Linked DNA regions of Homo sapiens: region 2 is linked to region 1. Evidence: fine-mapped expression QTL. Tissue or cell type: hippocampus. Region 1 holds a variant in brackets; the other region holds the start of a gene. All regions are shown on one strand. Distances are between the middles of the regions.

Region 1 (8,103 bases):
ACTCCCTCCTGGCGGGCGGGGCAGGAAACGCGCCGCGAGGCTGCGGGGGGCGAGGGGAGGGAAGGGGCGAAGGAACCTCAGCCTCCCCACCCCAGCCCCGCCCCCGGGCCCAGCTCCGACCCCGATGCGTCCCTGAGGCCTGGGTCCCAGGGGCTCTCCGCGCCCGGTCGCCCCTTCCCGGAGTCGCCACGTCCAGATCTTGTCACCGGCCCGGGACCACCTCGTGGGCCGGGCGGGGTGAAGTGCCGTTAGGAAGGACGGTCCCATGGGATGGGGGGCCGGGGAACAGGAGACGCACGCCAGGTCGGGAGAAGAGGACGGACTGCGCAGAGCAGAGGCCGCAGAGGGTCGGCCCGGGAGCGCGGGGGTCCCTCCACACGCTCCCCGTCCCCGCTTCCCACGCGGCTCCCTTCGGACCCCAGGGCAGGTGGGGACGAAGAAGTGAGTCGGGTCCCCGCTGCGGGCCGTCGTCCCCTCCAGCCAGGCCATCTCCAGGGCTTCAGGTTGGGGAAGGGGCTCCTGTGGCCTCCTGACCTCGGGCCTCGCAAGTGTCTGCCCTGGGGTAGGCACTGACTTGGTGTGGATTGATTGATGAATTGACTGGAAGAAGGAAGGCACCCTAGGAACTGCAGGCTCTTCCACTTAGGGCCTGGGTTTCAACTCAGTCCCCACTCACCACCTTTTCCATGTGTCTTCAAAGCCCCTCTTCACTCGGGGGTGACCCTGTCTGTCCAGAGGGCTTGCAGCCTTCAGGGACGCAGTTTCCAGTTTCTGGGCGCCCATATGGACTCTCCCCTGAAGGCCACCTCCCCTTCCCCTGGGAGCAGGGGGCCTGCAGTTTCTCCCACTGCTCACCTTGAACTTTCTTCCTCCGCCTGTCCGGGAAAGGCCCATCCGGCTCATCCCAAAGGCCCAGGGCATCTTGGTGAAAAACCCCAAGGGCGACAAACAAAAGACCTCTACGATCTGGTTTAGAGTAGACAAAGCTCCTCTTTTTCCCTCCAGCACATAGCTCATTTAAGAACAAACTTAGACACTGGATACTGTAGTTGGGTGAAGTGGCTCAGGCCTGTAATCCCAGCACTTGGGGAAGCCAAGGAGGGAGGATTGTTTGAACCCAGGAGTTTGAGACCAGCCTGGAGAACATAGTGAGACCCTACCTCTACACACACACACACACACACACACACACACACACACACACACACACACACAATCAGCTCCTGCTGGTGCACACCTGTAGTCCCAGTTACTAGGGAGGCTGAGACAGGAGGATCGCTTAAGCCCAGGAGGTTGGGGCTCTTGTGAGCCATAATTGTGCCACTGCACTCTAGCCTGGGTGAGAAAGCAAGGTCCCTGTCTCAAAAAAAAAAAAAAAGAAAAAAACTGGATACTTTGGCCCTCGTTGAGGATACGGACATATATATACACACATATGTACACTCACGCATCTATGGTGTAAAGTGGCAGCCATGACTGTCTCTTCACCTGACTTGTCTAGAAATGCTCAGCTCCTGAGGCAGTGACCCTAGAGGGACAGAGACTGCATCTGGGAGAAATGTGGAAGGGTCAGCTGCGTCCAGTGGGCTCCCTGAGACACTGCAACTGCTTTGTCCGGGTCGTGTCTACTAAGTGGAACTCAAGCAAGAGTCTCCGTCTCTGATGCTGGAGTGGAATGTCCACGGGGGCAGGTAATGAAGAAGGGAAATTCAGGAGCAGCTGCAGCCCCAGCAAGACAGACAGAAATCCATGTCAGTTCCTGATTCCTTTTGCTTAAAACACCTCCTTTACAATTTGCTTTAGTGTAAATGTTAGTGACAAACTCCTTTGTGCTGCAAGTGTCTTTATTTGGCCCTTATTTTTTATTTATTTATTTATTAGAGTCTGGCCCTGTCACCTAGGCTGGAGTGCAGTGGTGCCATCTCGGCTCACTGTAGCCTCCAGCTCCCGGGTTCAAGTGATTCTCCTGCTTCAGCCTCCCGAGTAGCTGGGATTACAGGCACGCGCCACCATACCTGGCTAATTTTTGTATTTTTAGTAGAGGTGGGGATTCACCAGGTTGGCAAGGCTGGTCTTGAACTCCCGACCTCAAGTGATCCACCCACCTCAGCCTCCCAAAGTGCTGGGATTATAAGCGTGAGCCAGTGTGCCCGGCCACATTCATTTTTAAAAATTTGCAGCCATTTGCTTTTCAAATGTTTTGCTCTGGTCCAGTTTCTGTCCTTCTGGGGGCCTCAAATTCCACCTATGTGAGACTCCCCTACCTTTGTCTCTTCTCCCTCTTCTCTATTTATTACTTTTTTGGTCTGTTCTGAATAATGTATCTTATATCTCTCAGTTCATTGATATTTCTCTTCACCTGTGTTTAATCTACAGTTCATTTATCAATTAAGCATAGCAGTTTTAAAGCTGTTGTGTCTTATTAAACCAGTATCTTGGGTCTCTATGGGTCTGTTGTTATCTGTTTGGTTTTGTTGTTGCTTGGATTTTTTTTTTTTTTAAATCTTATTCAGTATGGACCTGTTTATCTTTTATTATATACTAGATAAATCCTCTGTAGAAATAACTTGAAACTTGGGTTATTCTCTTCCTCCAGAAGAATTTCAATGGTTTCATCCAGATGCCTGGAAGCACTAACAATAAAAGAGCACCTTAATCTAATTTCAGGGCTTGAGATTTTCCTGAAAAATCTCCCTAAAAGTGGGTTTCAGTCTCTCTGAAGGCTGATTTACTTAGTTTACCTTCACTTCCAGGATGCAACTTTTGAGATCCCAGCCCACAGCAGCAGATGTTTTACCTGGATTCCTAATCTTGGTGAGCTGTGGACTCTGTATTGATTATTTGTTGCTATATAATGAACCCAAGGCTTAGCAGTCTTAAATTTAAAAGATTTATTATTTCTTATGAATCTGAGTGTTGGCTGGGCTTAGCTGGATGGTTCTTCTGGTTTACATGGTTTTGGCTTAGGCCACACATGCCCTACATTCAGCTAGGAGCCCAGCTGGGGATGGAATATCCATGCGTTCACTCACACAGCTGCTGCCTCATCAGGGATGGCTGGATTAGCTTGGGGCTAGGAAACTCTCTCTTTCTCTTTGCATCCTCTCTTGTCATCCAGGAGTCTAGCTTTGAGCTTATTTATGTGGTGGATGAGTTGCAAGAGGACAAAAGAGGAGACTGTCAGTCCTTTTAAAGGTTTGGCTTGGAGCTGACACAATATCGCATTCTATTATTCAAAGGAAGTCAACAGCCAGGTCCGATTCTAAGGGACGGGAAATAGACTCACCTCCTTATGGGAGCTGCAGCTTTTGTGTGCAGGGGGAATAGCTGGTGGTCATTTCTGCAGACTGTCTACCACAAACCTCAACGTTTACACCTGTAAGCCTTTGGAGCTTTCAAAAGTGCAGCGCAGGCCAGTCGCAGTGGCTCACACCTATAATCCCAGCATTTTGGGAGGCTGAGGCTGGAGAATCACTTGAGGCCAGGAGTTCGAGACCAGCTTGGCTAAGACAGCAAGACTCCCACCTTTACAAAAACTAAAAAAAAAAAAAAAAATTACCCAGGCACGGTAGTGAGCACCTGTAGTCCCATCTACTCAGGAGGCTGAGGTGGGAGGACCGCCTGAGCCCAGGAGCTTGAGGCTTCAGCGAGCTGTGATTGCACCTTTGCACTGCAACCTGGGTGAAGGCCTCCCCTCTCCTGCATGGTGGTGTCACCTTACACCTCCAGTGACGACCTTCTTCAGTGCCAGAAGGGGTGTGTGAGGGGAAAAAAGCTGATTTTCTCACCTCTCCCTGTAGTCCTGCCTTCCCAAGTGGCCCTGGAGGCTCCAGGCCTGCTGCTGTCGGAGAGGGGAGGGGGTGGGGGGTGGA[G/A]ACACATCCACGCCTCAATAGTGAATCTTTGTCCCAAAGCTGTCCCCTGCCCTGCTGTTCTCTGACAGGGCATTGGGCTGTCAGGGAAAAGGCTGGGGATTCCCATGGGACCGGCAGTGTCCCGGGCTCCCTTGCTGGCCTGGGTCTCGGCCTCTCAGTATGTCAGACCTCGACTGGGGAAAATGCACCAACTCCCTGCGTGAGCTATTCCTCCACAGCCCGCCTCCTCCCACACCCACCCCTGGACCCACCTGTGCTCACGGGACCCAGGCCCACCTCCCCTAGCCCCCGAACCCCGTCCCGTTTCCCTGAAGTCACAGATCCTGATCTTTCTCCATGTGAGCCCACTGGACTCAGCTGACCCTTCCACATTTCTCCCAGATGCACTCTGTCCCTCTAGGGTCACTGCCTCAGAAGCTGAGCATTTCTAGACAAGTCAGGTGAAGGGACTGTCATGGCTGCCACTTTACCCCATAGATGTGTGAGTGTACATATGTGTGTATATATATGTCTGTATCCTTTGCATGCAGTCCCCCCACATTGCCTACAGTCCCCTCTGGAGTTGGGACCGGCTTAACGAATTGATTCTGGAAGTTATGCTCAGAGGCTAGGCCCAGAACCGACTCCTCCAACCCTTCCGGTAGCTTTGTAAGTCCCGGTTACATCTGGTAAATCGGCCCTGCTTAAATTCCCTGCAGGGGTTCTGCCTCCTGCACCCCGACTGCCACAGCATTGGCTTCCAGAAAGAAGCGGCCTCAGCACCAGGCAGCAGGCTGGGGCCGGGCCAGCACCTGCAGCTACAGACCTCCAGGTTGAACAAGATCAATTCACCGCTCATCACAGGGAGGGAGAGCACCCACCACAGGGAGCCACAGGGTGTCTCAGTAAAAAGGTGTTAGAAAGGGCTTAGATTTGGTCAAAATGACAGTGAGATATCATCTCACCCCAGTTAAAATGGCTTCTATTCAAAAGACAGGCAATAACGAATGCTGGCGAGGATGGGGAGAAAAGGGAATCCTCGTACACCGTGGGTGGGAACGTAAATTAGTACAGCCACTATGGAGAACAGTTCGGAGGTTCCCCAAAAAACTAAAAATGGAGCTACCATATGATACAGCAGTCCCACGGCTGGGTATATACCCAAAAGCAAGGAGTCAGTGTATCAAAGAGATGTCTGCACGCCCACGTTTACTGCAGCACTGTTCACAATAGCCAAGATTTGGAGGCAACCTAAGCGTCCATCAGCAGATGAATGGATCAAGAAAATGTGGTGCATGTACACAATGGAGCACGATTCAGGCACAGAAAAGAATGAGATCCTGTCATTTGCAACAACATGAGGGAACCGCAGGCACCTTGGGGGGCCCACAAACAAAGGATAAATGCTGAGGTGACGGGCACCCTACTTACCTGATATTATTATACAGTGTATGCCCGTATCAAAAGATCCCATATGCCCCATAAATACATACACCTACTATGTACCCACAAAAATTAAAAAAATAAAGGGCTTCGCTTTGGGCTTGCATGAAGTGAAGGAAGCTCGAGGAAACAGGGATTGCACTGGATTAGATGCTTAGGAAGCAGGAGGTTACATGATTGACTATCATAATATATCTTTTTTTATTTTTATTTTTTTGAGACGGAGTTTCACTCTTGTCGCCCAGGCTGGAGTGCAATGGTGTGATCTCAGCTCACTGCAACCTCTGCCCCCTGGGTTCAAGAGATTCTCCTGCCTCAGCCTCCTGAGTAGCTGGGATTACAGGCATGCACCACCACATCTGGCTAATTTTTGTATTTTTAGTAGAAATGGCGGGGTATCACCACATTGGCCAGGCTGGTCTCAAACTCCTGACCTCAGACGATCTGCCCGTCTCGGCCTCCCAAAGTGCTGGGATTACAAGTGTGAGCCACTGCACCCGGCCTATCATAATAAATCTTATCTGGAAGGAAGGCAGACTAGAGAGAAGCTGAAGTTGTCATTGGTAAAGAAGCAGTCATCACTCCTGTTGGCCAAGGTTCGATGATTTGACGTGGTTTGGACAGTGTTGGTATTTCCATCTATGTTTCGACATGACTGCAGAATGCTCTTATTTTATCTTCATCCGTCATAGTCACAGAGTGGCCATGTCTGATGTTGACGTTCTGTGAAATTATTTATGTTCAGCAGGAGAACACCGTGGCCTAAATGTAGATGCCAGGCCAGCTCCCAGATGTCAGCGGCAGCAAGAAGCTATCTCTGCAGGCTGGGAGGCTGGTGAGCCCTGCACTGCCACAGGAAAACATGTGACCAAACTCTTGTCTTCAGCGGCTTTGACGGTAGACCATGTAGCGAATGCAGTTGTCAAAATGCACTGATAGACAGCGTCTCCCCCTCCCCACTCTGCACTGTCTCCTCTCCTACAACCCAAACTGATGTCCACACAGGGAGGTCTTTATGACCAGTTGATTGAGGGGGGAAAATCTCATCCTGGCTTAGAGATGGTCCAGAAGTAGGTGGCTACAGCACTCCAGTCCCACTCAGGGTGGCCCTAAAGAAGAGTGGTGGCCAGGTGCAGTGGCGCATGCCTGTAATCCCAGCACTTTGTGAGGCCGAGGCAGGCAGATCACCTGAGGTCAGGAGTTCGAAACCAGCCTGGCCAACAAGGTGAAACCCCGTCTCTACTAAAAATACAAAAATTAGCTAGGCATAGTGGCATGTGCCTATAGTCCCAACTACTCGGGAGGCTGAGGCAGGAGAATCACTTGAACCCGGGAGGCAGAGGTTGCAGTGAGCTGAGACTGCACCACTGTACTCCAGCCTGGGCAACAGAGCGAGACTCTGTCTCAAAAAAAAAAAAAAAAAAAAAAAGAACAGTGGTAAAGGAGAGTCCTCTCAGTTGTCATGTCATTACTTCATGTGCCGCATTTGTTTGTTATACTTTGCCTGGACTGGAAGATGGCCAGAAGTATGGCTCTATACTGGCTTATGGACTAGTATAGAGGCTAATGGTTTGGCTAGATCATCAGAGACTTGGAAGAAATCAGGTTGGGAGATTGGTATTGAGGTGGTCTGGGAAAGGACGGACCTCTCTGGATAGGCAGACTTTGAGGGTACCTTGTCACATGTGAATGCTCATCCAAAAGCATCTTCTAGAGGGGGCTGTCAATAATCAGGTGGGCAAGACAGTCTTTTCTGTGCATTGCAGTCAGCCTCTTTCCCCAGCCATCAGAATGGTTGCTCAATGGGCCTGTGTACAGAGTGACCAAGGAGGCAGGGAAGAGGCTGTGCATGGCCTCAGCATGGACTTTGCCTCACAAGTCCGACCTGGTTATCTTCACTGTTGAATATTTAACCAATAACAGAGACCCTGATATATGGCATCATTTCCTGGGAGAATAATTAGCCACTTGGTGGAAACTTGATTACATTAGATCCCTTCCATCACGGAAGGAAAAGCAATTTGTCCTCACTGGAATTTATTCTGGATATAGATTTGCTGTCTCTACGTGTAATGCTTTTGCCAGCACCACCATCCACAGAATTATAGAATGCCCTGTGGACCTTCATCATATCCCATAAAACATTTCTTTGATCAAGGAATTGATTTCATTGCAAAAGAGGTGAAGCATTAGGCTCATGGCCATGGAATTCAATGATCCTGCTTTTTGTTCAATCACCCAAGAGCAGCTGGCCTGATAGAATGGTTGGATGGGCTACCAAAGACTTATCTTAGCACCAGTTGGGAGATACCACCCTGAATGGATAGGCCCCCATCTTACGGTTTTGATATAATCTTTATTCAGTGATTAATATATGGTGGTGTTTTTCCCACAGCCAGAATATAGGAGTTTGGGAGTTAAGGGGTGATAGAGGGGAATTGGTTTGTTTCACTATTATACTTAGTGACTCAGTACGTTGTTTGAGGCACCTCCTGGTACTCCCATTCCAACAGTAAAAGGTTATCACAAACAACGCCAACAAAAAAATGGCAGAACCCTACTGAAAGTTCAGATCTTTCATGAATGAACATTTGGGTCATACTACTAGATGAAGAACCCCAACCAACCAGGGCCTGGCTGAGGGCAAAGAAAACATGGAATGAAAGAAGAAAAATCTAAAAATCAAATACTAGCAAACAATTCAACGGCCCATTCAAAGGATCATACATCATGACCAAGTGGGATTATTCCTGAAATGCAAGAATGGTTCGACATAAGAAAATCAACCAATATAATGCCCCACATTACC
Region 2 (8,103 bases), 130 kb after region 1:
CATTGTTCAGTGCCCACAGGAGCCTGCGGGGGCTGCGTCCCCAGGCCTTCCCGGTGCCCTCAGCATCTCCACCTCCCGTTCAAGGTCTTTGAGGCTGCAGTGCTACGTGCAGAACTCTGTCCCTCAGCGCCCCGGTGGCCCTGACTTGCCTGCCCTGTCCCACCCCCACGCCTGTGCTCGGGCAGATGGCCCTGCCTGGAGCTCCCTGTCTCCCATTTCTCCACCTAGAAGGGAAGCTGCTGGGTCCACCTTCCCAAAAGAGCACAAGGGCCTCGAGGAAGGACAGCCACGCAGCAGGGGGGACTTAGCTGAATGGCCCTCGGCCACTGCAGCAAGATCCCTGAACAGTGCACATTCCTGAGCTCCAGCCCAGACTCTCTTTTAACCACGGACCATATGTGACCCTCAAGTGTGAGAACAGGTGTCACTGGACTGGGATGTCTGTGGAATGAAGGAGCTGTCAGAGGACAGCAGAGCAGGGACCCCATCCCTACCCCAAAGGCTGGATCCTCCCAGGGGCCACCCTCATGCTGGCATTGCCAGCCAGGGGGGCTCATCCCCCAGCCTGCTCTCCCTCCCCACGTGCCATTCTCCTTCCTGCCCCCAACCAAGGGTGCTCCTCTCCAAGTCTGCCCACTGGGGTGAACGAGGTCCAGGCCAGCAGCGTTTGCAGCTCGGAGTCCTGGTGCTCACCTCTGTCCACCCTGCCTGGGAGGCTGTGTCTGCAACCCCAAGTTCCAGACTGGTCCCTATATGACTCCAGGCTGGTCCCCCTCTCTAGCCCCACTGCTCCCCAACAAGGAGAATGGCTGGGCTCTAGCTGGGCTCTAGCACTCAGAATACTAAGGCTGCGACCCTGTGTAGGGAGCTTGTTTTTTTTTTTTTAGTTTCATCAGCACCTCCCCATCCCCTGCCAAAAGGTGACACTAGGGGCAGGGAACCCTGGCATTTCCTCACTCAGCAGAGAGCAAAGCGTGCCTTGGGGACAATCCCTGGGGTCCTCAGGTCAGGAAGGAGTGCTAAGTAAGCCAGGAATGCTGGCCTTCAATTTTTTTTATCCATTATACCTTTATAAAAGAGCAACAAGCCGGGCACAGTGGCTCACGCCTGTAATCCCAGCACTTTGGGAGGCCAAGGCAGGTGGATCACCTGAGGTCAGGAGTTGGAAACCAGCCTGGCCAACATGGTGAAACCCGAGTCTACTAAAAATACAAAAATTAACTGGGCATAGTGGTGGGCACCTGTAATCCCAGCTACTCCAGAGGCTGAGGCAGGAGAATTGCTTGAACCCCGGAGGCGGAGGCTGCAGTGAGCCAAGATCACGCCATTACACTCCAGCCTGGGCAACAGAGCAAGACTCTGTGTCAAAAATAAATAAATAAATAAATAAGCAATGATCTCCCCCACCCAGATGGGTAAACTGAGGCCAGCAGCAAGGCAAGGCATGCCCCAAGTCATGGGACAGAGTTTGAGGCTTGCTCCCTCCCGACCCCCCCAGGGTCCCGAGCGCATACCTTCCCTTCTGGGCCTCCAGCCCCCTCAGCAGCGCCTGGCTGTGGTGGAGCAGGCCGGGGGGTGCTCATGCTGCTGCCGCCACTGCGCCACTAAGCTGCACGAGGACTGGGAGCAGAAATGGGGTGTCTGCTGTTGGCCTGATGCTGGATCCACACTCCCCCGAAGGCTTCAGGTGCTAAGCCCACCCCACTCCACCCCAGCCCAGGCCCAGTGCCCATGGCTCCAGCTGGACCTATATTGCACTGCTCCCTGCCTGAGCCCGCCGCCAGAGGGGGCACTGGACCCTGGCCGCACAGTGTGCCTGCAAGAGGGCACAGGCAGGAGGGGAGACCTGGGAAGGCTTCCTGGAAGAAGTCTGCTGATCTGAGGCCTGAGAGGTGAGCAGGAGGTAGCTAGGCCAGCTGGGAGGACAGAAGCACATTCTGAGACAGGAATAGTGCAGGAAGGACACGGAGTGTCCTAGGGACCTAAACGTTCCTGAGACGGGAGGCTGGGAGTAGTAGGGACTGGGTTCAAGTCAGCCAGAGGCCAAGGTGCCCATTTCCTCCTCGAGAGCATGCACCCTGCACACCCCGGGCCAGGCCCTCAGCACCCACAGCCCAGGGGGAAATGAAGTCCTGCCCCTGCACTTGGCCGCACCCACTCAGGCTGGCCACAGCAGGGGGAGCCCCACTGGAGCCCTGGCAGCAAGGGCTCTGGGAAGAGAGCCCCTGGCAGGAGTTGGCACCAGCCAGACCCTTCACCTGCGCTCGGGCCGTGTGGGCTCTTGGGGCTACGCCCTGGTCAGAGGTAGAAATGGGGGTGGGGTGTGGCAGTGGCTGGCATGCAGGCAGTAGGGGGCCACGGGCGGGGGCAGCCCTGCAGGAAGGGGACAAGGCAGTGGGAGAGCAGAGACCAGCAGGATGGAATGCCTGTGACGTCCTGCTGGGGTGGGTGAGGGTGGTCCTGTGGCCGCCAGCAAAGCAGAGGGCTGCTATTCTGAGAAATGAGGTTTCTTTCACCAAACACCCCACTCAGGTCAGCTGGGGTCCCACTGAGGCCCAGGGAGGGCTAGGAGGGGCACACACTGCAGGAGGCCTCTCGGGGCAGCGGGCAGTGAAGCCACAACCTCTGGCTCCTCTGCCCAACCCCAAAGCCCAGGGATGTCTCAGTGCCCCACTGCTCCCAGGTCCGGCCCTCCATCAAGCCTCTTCTGGATCCCATCCCAGGACCCCAGAACTCAGGTTAGAGTCCAGGGCAGCCAGGACAGAGACCCAGCCAGCCTTGGGAAGGAGGCAGAGGGAGAGGCAAGAAAAATACTGCCACAGAGACCAGGCGAGAGGTGACTGAGCTGGAGACAGAGGAGAAGAGAGAGAGAGAGAGAGACAGAAACAGACCCACAGATGACACTTGGCCCAGAGAGAGAGGGATGACAGAGGCAGATGATAGAGCTGTCAGCTTGAGCCAGGCGGGGGCAGGCAAGCAGGGAACAAGTGCCCAAGGGCTGCCTTGCCCTGCCCGGCGCCAGGGTCCAGTGCCAGCCGGGGCACCACACATCGAGGGCACCCACCACCCCCAGCGCCGCGGGATCCCAGGTCTTGCTGGGCACAGCCCCGGGGACACAAGCGCGCGGAGGCATGGCGTTCCACAGCCGGGCTGACCCCGCGAACCCACGCCGTCCCGTTCCCCAAGGAGCTCGACTCAAAACTCCCAAATCCCCCCCCATGCTCCTCCCGCTCCCAACCACCCCGCACCTAGCCGTCAGGGCGCTCCCGGGGCCCGCACTGCCGGGGCCAGGCTGGGGAGGGGCGACCCTGCGCCACACTCACGCTCACCGCCCGCGCGGGTGCTGGCGCTGGGGCCTCCGCGCTCCGCTGGCTCCGCGCTCTCCCGGCTCGCTCTCCTTCTCGCGCTCCCCGCCCACACGCGCTCTCCCGGCCTCCCTCGCACTCACGCCCACCGCGGGGCTGGCCGCCGGTCCTCAGCGCCCGCGCCCTCCCAGCTCCAGCCCCCAGCAAGGGCCCGGCCTCATCTTCCCTTGAGCCGACCCCTCCCCCAGGGCCTGCCCCTGGCCACTTGAGACTGAGCCTCAAGATTGGCGTCCAGAAATTTGAGGTGCAGAATTCGGTGGGGCCAGATACATGGAAAGAGGACTCCTTCCTATTGGGGAATAAAGACAGGAGTAAAAAGGACCAAAAAAAAAAAAAAAACCCAAACTGCCGGGCGCAGTAGCTCACGCCTGTAATCCCAGCACTTTGGGAGGCCGAGGCGGGCAGATCACCTGAGGTCAGGAGTTCGAGATTAGCCTGGCCAATATGGTGAAACCCCGTCTCTACTAAAAATACAAAAAAAAAAAAAAATTAGCCAGGCGCGGTGGCAGGTGCCTGTAGTCCCAGCTACTTGGGAGGCTGAGGCAGGAGAATCTCTTGAACCCAGGAGGCAGACGTTGCACTTAGCCGGGATCGTGCCACTGCACTCCATCCTGGGTGACAGACTGAGATTCTGTCTCAAAAAAAAAAAAAAAAAAAAACCTAAAAACCCAAACTGGGATGCGCTGCAGGAAGCAGGGGGGGGGGGGGGGAGGGGGTCACCCCTCAGCCCCCCTCTCATCTTTCCAGTTCCATTCCCAAAAAGGAGCAAAACAGCCCTGGGACAAGCTGTCTCATTCAGCCCAGTGCACAGACCTGACACCTGAGCCAAGGTGCATAATCTCTGGTCCATGTAATTCCTACCCTGCAACCAGGAAGCCTCCACCGTCAGTTATCTAACATCCCACTTCCATTCAATACCCACAGTCCAGCCACGGTCCGTCTACCATTCACAGCTATTCATCTATCTTTTGCCATCCCGCCACCATCTGAGACCCACCATCTGCCATCCATCATCCACCATCAATAACCCAACATCCACCTCATCCACAATCCACCACTACCATCAATAACCCAACATCCATCCCGTCCACAATTCACCATCTACCTTCAATAACCCAACATCCATCCCGTCCACAATCCACCATCTACCTTCAATAACCCAACATCCATCCCGTCCACAATCCACCATCTACCTTCAATAACCCAACATCCATCCCGTCCACAATCCACCATCTACCTTCAATAACCCAACATCCATCCTGTCCACAGTCCACTACCTACCTTCAATAATCCAACATCCATCCCATCCACAGTCCACCATCTGCCTTCAATAACCCAACATCCATCCCATCCACAGTCCACCATCTGCCTTCAATAACCCAACATCCATCCTGTCCACAGTCCACCATCTACGTCCGTTTGTTTGTTTGTTTGTTTGTTTGTTTGTTTGTTTGTTTTGAGATGGAGTCTCGCTCTGTTCCCCAGGCTGGAGTGCAGTGGGAAGATCTCGGCTCACTGCAACCTCCGCCTCACGGGTTCAAGCAATTATCTGCCACAGCCTCCTGAGTAGCTGGGATTACAAGCACCCACCATCACGCCTGGCTGATTTTTGTATTTTTAGTAGAGATGGGGTTTCACCATCTTGGCTAGGCTGGTCTTGAACTCCTGACCTCGTGATCCACCTGCCTCGGCCTCCCAAAGTGCTGGGGTTACAGGTGTGAGCCACCGCGCCCGGCCCACCATCTACGTTCAATAACCCAACATCCATCCCATCCACAGTCCACCGTCTACCTTCAATAACCCAACATCCGTCCCATCCACAGTCCACCATCTACCTTCAATAACCCAACATCCATCCCGTCCACCATCCACCATCTACCATCAATACCCCAACATCCATCCCATCCACAGTCCACCATCTACCATCAATAACCCAACATCCATCTCATCCACAATCCACCATCTACCTTCCCCCATGCAACCACCAGCCATCCATTCACAATCCACCATTCAACCACCGTCCAGTATCCAATGTCCATTAACCATCCATCTCCAGTCACCATCCCATATGCAACCACCACCCATCCATCATGCACCCATCCATTCACCACCAGCACCCACCATTTACCAAGCATCAATACACCACTAAATACCCATTGATCCAACATTCATTCACCATCGATCCATCCACCACCTATCCATCCATCACTCACTATGTAACAGCTTTCCATCAGATATTTAACACATCCATCTACCATTCACATCTCCATCCACATATCTAATTGTGAATCATCACTCTACTATTCATTTGTCCTGATTTATCCCTTAACCTCCATCCAATCAGCAACAAGTCACCCATCTACAATTCACCCACCAGTCATTCACCATTTGCCATCCATTCATATTTCTATTAACTGTATTCCTCCATCCATCCACCAACCATCTACCATCACCATCTCTTTTTTGGTGTTTATTTGTTTGTTTGTTTGTTCGTTCGTTTGAGGCAGAGTCTCTCTCTGTCACCCAGTCTGGAGGGCAATGGCGCAGTCTCGGCTCACTGCAACCTCTGCCTCTGGATTCAAGCAATTCTCCTACCTCAGCCTCCCAAGTAGCTGAGATTATAGGTGCCCACCACACCCAGCTAATTTTTGTATTTTTAGTAGAGACGGGGTTTCTCTATGTTGGCCAGGCTGGTCTCGATCTCCTGACCTCAGGTGATCCACCCGCCATGGCTTCCCAAAGTGCTGGGATTACAGGCGTGAGCCACCACACCCAGCCTACCATCACCATCTCTTATCCATATCCACCACGTATCCATTCATTCACTATCCATCTCACAACATCCTCTATCTATCCACCCATCATCCAGCCAAAATTCACTATTCATCCAAAATCCATCCAAGTACCATCTAGCATCCATTCATATTCATCCATTCTAGAAAAAAATATTGACTGCCTTCTATGTGCCAAACATTGTTTTAGGTGCTGAGGACAGAGTAGAGAGACAGCAGTGAGCATTTATTTGCCATTATCCATCGACCATTACAATCCACTCACCATCCATCCAGTCACTATTCATGCCCATCCCACACTCGTTATTCTTTCTCCATTCGGTATCCATCTTCATTCATCATCCACTCTACCCACTTGCTATGTATCCATCTTCCTCCATCTGTACATTAAAGCATCCATTTACCACCTCTCCATCTACACACCCACCATTCATCTTTCATGCATCACTTTTCCAAGTTGTAGCCACCTACTGTTTAAACCTTCATCCATCCGCTCAGCACCTGTTCATCATTAGTCATCCAGATTCCATCCAGTTGTTATCTATCCACATCCACCTTCCATTTGTACCTCCACAGCACACAACCCATTATTCATCCAGCTAGCAATCATTCATTTATTTGCCATCCAGTCCCCATTCATGCACCAGGCAGCCACCATTTACTTGTCCACCACTCATGATCCATCCATCAGTCATATACTCATTGGTATTTCTGTCCCATCTGCCCATCCATTCTCTGTGGATAGATCCATCACAATCATCCACTACTATTTATCCACCATCCATCCACACTTCCATGATGTATCTACCCACTAAGCATCCACCATCTACTATTAATACTTATTGCCTGCAGTTTATATCCACTATGTATGGATTCATGTGGTATCCATCGATCCAACAATTCAGCATCCACGTCCGTCCATTTTCCATCTATCAATCTACTGTGTATTTATCTATTCTTCATCACTTAATCAATCACCAACTACATAGATGCATCTACCATCCATCATATTATATCCATCCACCATCTAGGATCACCCTCTACCATGCTTCCAGTGCCCATCCAATCATTAGCCATACATTCTTCTACCCACCACATACTCATTCCATCATTATGTCCATCGTTCATCCACTATCACTCACACAGACAGTTATTCATCCCCCACCAATCAGCCAGCCACCTAGTAATTAACTCGTCCATGTGTTCATCTATTACCCTTAAGTTATATTCTTATATTATCCACATACATAAACATCAGTCCACTGTCCTCACTTCATCTCACCGCCACCCATCCCCATCATTCATCCATCCATCTTCTCACCATTCTTTTGCCCATTCATTCATAAACAATACATTCATGTATTAATAAATATTAATATTAAGCATTATTGACTCCATGTCAATGCTGGATTCTGGGATCATTGAGAGAAATAAGACCCAATCCAAATTCACGATCCAATGGTCCAAAACGGAGAACCAGGTCAGGCAGAGAAGTGTCTTTGTGAAAATGCGAATTGGGTTCTCCTGGATGTGGGATGGATAGAGCTCTTTGCACAAGTTCTCCAGGAGGAAGATGGGCAAGGGGGCATCACAGCAGGGTAGGTGGAGGCCTGACCTGGGCACTGTGGCTGCAGCTCAGGAGATCTGATGATGTGGGCATAGCGGGAGGTGAGACTGGAAAAAGAAGGTAGCAGAGATTGTGCAAAGCTGAGAATGCCCAGCAGAGGGGTCAATCCCTGATGTGGGGGCAGCAAGGAGCTCTGGGAGGGTTTGAGGCAGACAAGAACCCCAGTCATCTACATTCTGAGAAGGGGCTCCCCACATCTGTACACTGCTCCAGGCAAGAGCACAGACCAGAAGGACAGGGGCCTGGCCTAGTGTCACACACCAATGCCAGAGTAGGTCAGACACCTCACACCCTTATCACTGTGGCTGCAACCGCACCC

The links. PIP is the estimated chance that this variant, and not a neighbour inherited with it, causes the effect.
Region 2: it holds the start of LBHD2, and the variant in region 1 is fine-mapped to the expression of LBHD2 in hippocampus (GTEx, PIP 0.96).

What each region holds. Positions count from the first base shown.
Region 1 is chr14:103,212,589-103,220,691 of GRCh38, reverse strand. No RefSeq gene overlaps it. Among named protein-coding and RNA genes, the nearest start is that of LINC00605, 28 kb to the right of the region's middle. The variant G/A (reference allele first, on the strand shown) is at 3,873.
Region 2 is chr14:103,079,493-103,087,595 of GRCh38, reverse strand. It overlaps LBHD2 (LBH domain containing 2), which reads right to left and starts at 3,386. Exons shown (of 4, transcript NM_001330236.2): 1 at 3,249-3,386; 2 at 1,515-1,620. The coding sequence starts at 1,583.